Homo sapiens: one gene and its partner. The protein of the gene in region 1 interacts with the protein of each later gene in a pairwise test. Each region holds a gene or a part of one and is shown in the gene's direction. Other genes may lie near its edges.

Region 1 (3,500 bases):
TTCTTGGGGGGAAAAGTTCAAGTAGGAAACACACAAATCATTCCATATTTATTGATCATATTTTTAAGGCTATTCTTATGGCATGACTTCTGTAGGAATGTTTCTCTTTTCTAGTAAATTCCACGAGCCCAGTGTCTATGATCTACTTCTACTTCGTGATATACTTTAGCTTAATTTCACTAATCCAAATTTTTTGACTTTTAGCTTGCTCAGTCATTTCACCATGGCCCTCCAGGGAGGAAGACCCTTTAAAACCATTTGTGGTTATGATGATGAAACTTAACAGGAGTATTTATTGCAATTTGGAGATTTCTTCCTGGTTCATCCTTTAAATATTGGTTCTTGCCTGAAGGCTACTCCTAAGAGTATCTAGGACAAACATGTTCCACTGAATTAACTGAATCTTTAGGATGTTATCTGATGAAAATACCAACTGGTTAGTGAATTGTGTTCTGATAAGAGGACTTGTCAATACAACATTATTCTGGGCCATCTACAATGTTCTTAAATCTGTGTTTACATTTTGACAAGAGAAAAAAGAAGTTAAGCAGTTAATATAAATGTTTTTAACTCAAATCACATTTTTAGATTTTACTTATTTTTCTATAGTCTTTTAGAAATATTTCTCCACTCACTTAGCTGCCTCTTTAAAAGTATGTAGAACATAATTTAACCTGTTCTTAATAGATACAATACATCACTATGACTTCATTATAGTATTATGTGATTTTATAGGGATAATTTTTGAAGGCATTGCATCATACAGAACTGTTTATTTTTCCCATCAATTGACCATGGACTGTTACTATTGTTGAGTTTTATCTCTGGCTATAAAATATATTTTGTCTACATCTTGTGTTCAGCTGAAACTTCTCCCTGTATAAAACTTCCTCAAAGCAGTTCTCTCTTTTAGTTTTGATGTTAAGACATAGGGGACTAAGTTTTGTTGGGGTTGTGTTTAAAGTAGGAGAGGAGATTAGAAAACAGCACCTGAATCCCTTATTAGAGGAATATCTAATTAGTTTTAACTAATGATTCTGTAGCATCTGATATTAATTTGGATGTCACTTGTACTTTGTACAACGTATTTTTCCTTATTAAATGAGAATGTGGACTAGATCAACTCTAGTTATTAGTTTCAACACTATATAATTTATTTAAATTATGAACTGTACTATACATATAGTGTTTGGTATAATTAATAATACAATTCATGATCATGATAACAATAATAATAATGTAATAATAACAAATACCCATGTACCCACTAGCAGTTTTCTGATTTTTGTATTAACCCCTTGCCTTTTGTACAGTTTTTCCACATATGTATACATCTTTAACATGTTACTTTACTTGGCTGTTCTTAACAGTAATAAAATAAATATAATGTGTATATTCTCTGACTTGCAATTTTGCTGAACGTTAAGTATCTGAGTTTCATCTATGTGGATTCATATTGCTGTATTTCAGTCACTTTCTCTGGTGTATAATACTTCATGATATTAATTAACCATAGTTTATCTAATCTATTGTTGATGGATTTTGAAATTCAGTTTTTTGCTATTGCTAGTAAAGTTGGCATAAACATTCTGGTGCATGTCCACCAGCACAAATTTGCCACCATGTTTAGGGTGCATACCTAGGAGTGGAATTGCTGAGTCATAGAAGGGTATCTTTTCATCCGGGAGGCAAAGACATGTTGCAGTTACTGAAACCCCCACCAGGGGCAGATGAAAGGCCTCTTTGCTTCATGCCTCTGCCAACACTTGGTATTTTCATATGCTTAATTTGCCCGCATCTGGTAACTTCTCATTGTGGGTTTAATTCGCATTTTCCTGATTGCTTATAAGTCTGAACATTTTTTCCATTAATTTGTTAGCTATTTGTGATGTCAGCAAGACAATTCTATGATTCTGTTTCTTCAACTGAGCAACATTTGCTTTTAGACCTTAATATTATTGGTAGTTATTCTGTTTCTTCTACTAAGCAACCCTTTGCTTTTAGGCATAGATGTTATCAGTAGTCTAATGTTCAGGAAGTTGTCGCCTAATACTTTACCATGTTGACTCTGGCCTAGGCTTTATTTAAGCACCTTCCCAAAATGTACACTGATTTTGAGTTGGAAAAGACATTCTTAGTCACTGTAACATTGTTGATTACCCTGAGCAAGTCCTGCCATGTTAGTATCCTGCCTTATCCTGTTTATTGTGTCTTTATAGAGAATCATTTACAGGGAAGCAGGATGCTGGGATGCCAGGCTTAATTTGAGGCTCCTTATGAATCCCCTGAATATAATGGAACTAAAGGATAACAGAAACACAGAGTAGTAATGGTAGACACCAAATCTGAGTTAAAAATCTTAATATGATCATTTGAATTTGGGTATATTTCCAACATGGTAAAATACATAGGCCCAATATCATTGTTACATTTATGGCATATATAACTGTGGGTTTCAAACAAACGTATGTGCTTTGTGCACCATCCCCCCCAATTTTTGTTTGGGTTTATAATTTTTTCACCTGCTCCCATGGGACAGGCTAATGAAGACCCCTGAATGAAATAAAGCCTCAGATGTACTTGCAGAGGCCTCTGTAGTGTGTTGCCTTCTGTGCAGACTCATTAGAGATGTGAGCCAAGGCTGAGACATCTAAGCAAACCCTCTGCACCCAGAGTCCTCAATCCATTGTTCCTGCATCTTTTTTCAGTCTCATGGGATCCCAGAAGAATACAAATTAGAGAGAAGAATCTGCAAAGCTTTTCCTTTCATGTTTAATGTCTGGGCAGAGCTGTTCCCTGCAGGACAATTTCTGGTTATTTTCTCTCTCTGGTTTGAGGCATCTCCAGGGATGGTTTGGTGACTGTTTCCCTTGGGGAAGTTTTCAGCAGCATATCAGTTTTACTGTTAAAAGTTTATTTTACAATTCATCTGAGATAGTCCTGTTCTAAATGTTCTTTCCATTACCCTTGTCATCTGGCTCTTGATTCCTGCATACCCTTTTCAGTGACACTGCCTCTTCTGGGCTGAAATGTGTTCAATAATTCGAGCTATAAATCACTCTCGCCTCCCCATTTGGTCTTTACTTAACCAGATTATAAATATTTAATTCATTTGATTTTTCCTCATACCACTCCAGAAGCTTAATCATGTTTAGTCTTCTTACTTTAACTCCCTCTAGTTTGTTTATATCTTTCTTGTAATCAAGGGGCCTAACTCTGATGTGCTCTTCTAAGTAAGCTCTCCAGAGTCATATTATAAAATACAAATTCAGCATCATCTTTAGCTTATTGTACAGCCATAGACAAACATATGGTCTCTCAAAACTTGTGTTATCAGTTTTCAGGAAGGACTATCAATGCCTAATAAAATCATTGAGATATTATAAGGACCAAATAAGACCAAGTATTTCATTGAAGATAGTACAATAGTTACTGAGCCTTTACCAACGATTACAAATAGATGAATAAAAGATTTAGATGAGTTTCTGCCCTGCAGGGGC
Region 2 (3,998 bases), on another chromosome or scaffold:
CTTCATTTTGTTGACATTTCACCTTTTCATCCATAAATTCTGGTGTTACACTCTGCACAATCAAGCATCTTAGTTTTGTTTTCCATTTTATGAATTATTCCAGAGGAACATGTTCATGAGAATTTACCCTTTTTTGTAATTACGGTCATTCCATCACTTTTAGATTTCCCTCATTTATTTGCCTCATTCATCATTTGCCTCTGGAAGCATATAATATTTTTATTTACCTTTTCTGGAATTAAATTTGGGTTTCATACTTAGGAAAAAGCCCTGCAGAATGAACCCATACCCAGACAGTACCATATTTAGGGGTGTTGATGGCTTAGTTCAATCACTTTAATTCTAGTTTTTAACCAAATTTGAAGACAAAAGTACAAAGGTTAAAAGAGAATGGGAATACAAAACAATGATTTCTGGCATTAAATACATCAGAAAGCCCAGCTAGGTTTTGGAGGACTGGAGAAGATGGGAGAGACAATGATTTTTAAAAACAGAATGTTTTGAATTTTATTTCCAATTTGGACAAAATTCACACATGGGAAATTCAAGGATTCAGAATCAATTTCTTTTATTGAAAGATTATTTAAATTTAACTATAAATTATAGAATAAATTGTTGGAATTGACTACTAATGATATACTGAAGATAAATAATGAAAATATAGCATTGATTACCTAATTTGGAAATAATAATTCTTGAATGCCTACTGCGTACAGACACTATACAACTCACTTAATGCTCCTGTGAAATTGAGATCCCACTTTACAGAGAAGAAAATAACGGCTCAGACAAGTAAAAAACAAAACCAAAAACCCGTCACCAAGTTCATGTGTTTTGTAAGTGTTACAGCTACACTAACATTCTTCCTAGTATCATTTAATGGACCCTAGAGCTCCATCATTGACTAGCTGTATGACTTAAGGGAACCTCCTTATCTTCCTTGCCTTAGTTTCCTCATCTGTGAAATGGAGGGTCTGGATTAGGAACTCCACGGTCTAAAGACATTCCTTGCAGCTTTAACATTCTATGAGCATAAGGAGTATATGGGCATGATTTTAAGGACTGGTTGTTTATGAGCCAATCAGAGGTGTTGAATAAACACCTCCCTACTAGGTCAAGGTAGAAAGGGGAGGGCAAATATTGGAAAAAAAAAACATGATGAGAAGTCTATAAAAATTGTGTGCTACCAAAGATCTGTCTTATTTGGCAGCTGCTGCCTCACCCACAGCTTTTGATATCTAGGAGGACTCTTCTCTCCCAAACTGTAAGTAAAAAAGCTTCCTTTGTATACCTGGACAGCACCAGTGAATAAGGGGTTAATAATACTACTAAGCTTATAGAAGGGAAGATTGGTTTGCCTTTGTTTTCGGGAAAAACTTGATGGTGGCTGAAAACATGATGGCTCTGCTTGGAGGGAAATGCTTGTTTTCCTCTCTCTAAGTATAAATGCTCATTCACACCTTTCCTGACTTTTTGAGAGGTGGCAAAATGCCCAAGATTGATTGCCAGTTACTTGTGTTACCTGAATGAGGCCCTTGTGAGTCTCTGATCTAGGAAAAACAACTTGAACACTCCTATCGTTAGGTTCTAATCAGTTTTTGAGATTCCTGTTCATTTCAACTCTCAACTCTCTTTTCATAACAACTACTTATTTTAGTGATTTATTTACATATCTACTGCCTTATGTCATTTTCTACATTCTCTTCCCACACCTACTGGTACCGACACTGAAGTTTCTTTGTCACAGAAACAAACCCTTGGAGTATTTTGCCCTTCGCCTTCACCCACTGCTCAAATGAGGAAATGCAACAGGGTTGGAAACTTCACAGAGCATAGTCATCATTTGATTATGAATTTCCAAACCCTTCATGTTTGACACTTTCTAGAACATTTCCTGCTGGCCCCAGACACTGTGAAGACCCTACAGCTTAAGATAGTAGGAATCAAAAGGTTGTGTATTTTGATACATTTGCTCTACTATCTGAAAAATAGGCATTGTGAGAATATGTTGCCTTTTTAAAAAATAACTTCTCTTTAAATAGTTACCTAGGGCTCCATTAGACAATTTGGATGCACCAGAGCTTGAACTCTGCTACCCTGCTATTCATCACTTTAGCTAAGGCACATCTGGGTAGCACCCAGGCCCAGGTTAGAGCCAGAGATACTGGGGCAGGGAATGGGGAAATGTTGAATATCTAAGAGGTCCTTTGGCTTCATTCCAAGTTTAGAGGAAAGAGCACCATTCAGGACTCGTTCTGGGCTGCTCCGCGTGTGTTAAAGGGCACTGGAAATCAGGCTGTCCTAGGACTGCCCTAGATCATCCCACTGCACTTGTCACTGGGACATTGGGGTGGATAATGAAGCTATTGGCAGCTTTAAGCATCATGTACAAAAGTGCTGCATGCAGTGCCTAGAAATCATGGGCTATCAATAAATAAGCCTCCTCATATTTGCCTTAAAAATCCATTTGTCTTGTACATAGAGAAGCAAATGAACTTTCTGCTGCCTTCTATTTCTCCAGGAATTAAATATCCATGTTACAAATAATTATGTTTTCACAGAACATCTTCAAGGAAGGCAGAAAGAACCATACCATAGGATTCTACCTGCTATTTTGCTGAAGGATTAGAAATAGAATTCTAAGTCATAAGCCAATAGGATGTAACTTGCAATCCTAGAACATCACAACTTAGAAGGCACATCAGACATAGTCTCTCTGGCTTTAGTTTCCTCATCTCTAAAGTGACAGGGTTGACGCAGGTATCTCTGAGGTCATTTGTAGCTCTGTTTTTCTGTGGTTACCTTCTGTTGTTAATACAACTTTCCTCCAGATTTATATACATATTACTTGTTACACATATGTAATAAAGTGCGTGATAAAGAATGTATAAAATGAAATGTGGCCGGGTGCAGTGGCTCATGCCTGTAATCCCAGCACTTTGCGAGGCCAAGGTGGGAGGATCGCGTGAACTCAGGAGTTCAAGACAAGCCTGGGCAACATAGCAAGACTTTGTTTATACCAAAAATAAAAAAAAAAATAGCTGGGCATGGTGGCAGGCGCCTGTAGTTTCAGCTGCTTGGTGTCTGAGGTGGGAAGATCACTTGAGCCCAGGAGGACGAGGCTTCAGTGAGTCATGATTGTGCCAGTGCACTCCAGGCTAGGCAACAGAGCAAGACTCTGTCTCAGAAAATAAAAAAGAAAGAAAGAAAAAGAAAAGAAATGTGAGAATCTCTCCACCCTACCCCATTCTTCAGAGGTAACTCCAGAGTTGTTACTCTTTGTTTATATAGACACAAAAACAGTATGGGTATATATCATTTTTTAATTAAAAAATAGGAGGACAGTATATATTGCATACTTCTCTGAAACTTGTTTTTCATTTAATAATATAATGTGAACAACTTCCATCACACTGAAAAAAGTTGGCTTGAGATCTGAGAGAGCAGAGGCTTAGGAGTACGGAAATCGTTCTTTGTCATTACCCATCCCAGGTTGTCCTCCTGTCTCCTTGTGGTGAACATTGGCCTGTGACCCTGTTTTATGATTAACAGAGAGGTGACATTTGTGCTAACGTGGTACAGACCTTTAATCCCACTGTAGAAGTTTAACTCCCTGTAAACAGTATTAGTTTGAATTATCATTTTCACTGTTATTCTGGTTGAGTCAGCATACCCAGATTGAAGAAAATAGTTTAGTAATAGGCAGTAAACAGAAAAATGGAGGTCACTTAGGTGATTTTTTTCATTAAAAAAAGAGAATTAGTAATACATTGCATTTTATAGTGCTTTGTAAAGAATCTTCATGTTTATCATGCAATTTAACAAATATATTTTGAGCAACTACAATGAGCAGGGTGCTCATAGATGGCATTTGAGTTACCTGGCAAAGAGACAACCAGAACAGTTATTATCACCATTTAATCCATAGTAAACTGAGACTCAGGAAGCTGCCTGACTTGCCTGAGGTTCCAGCTAGATTAGGCAGAGCTGGTTCTTAA

What was found. Proteins that work in one complex are often made in the same cells at the same time.
Region 2: the proteins of DCC (region 1) and ALDOB interact in a two-hybrid assay, tested with the Homo sapiens proteins (one large-scale study listed by BioGRID and IntAct).

What each region holds. Positions count from the first base shown.
Region 1 is NC_000018.10:52,346,697-52,350,196, forward strand, and holds part of DCC (netrin receptor DCC), read left to right. Parts: intron 1-3,500. UniProt on the Homo sapiens protein: Receptor for netrin required for axon guidance. Mediates axon attraction of neuronal growth cones in the developing nervous system upon ligand binding. Its association with UNC5 proteins may trigger signaling for axon repulsion.
Region 2 is NC_000009.12:101,432,975-101,436,972, reverse strand, and holds the start of ALDOB (fructose-bisphosphate aldolase B), read left to right. Parts: upstream 1-1,198; 5' UTR 1,199-1,264; intron 1,265-3,998. UniProt on the Homo sapiens protein: Catalyzes the aldol cleavage of fructose 1,6-biphosphate to form two triosephosphates dihydroxyacetone phosphate and D-glyceraldehyde 3-phosphate in glycolysis as well as the reverse stereospecific aldol addition reaction in gluconeogenesis.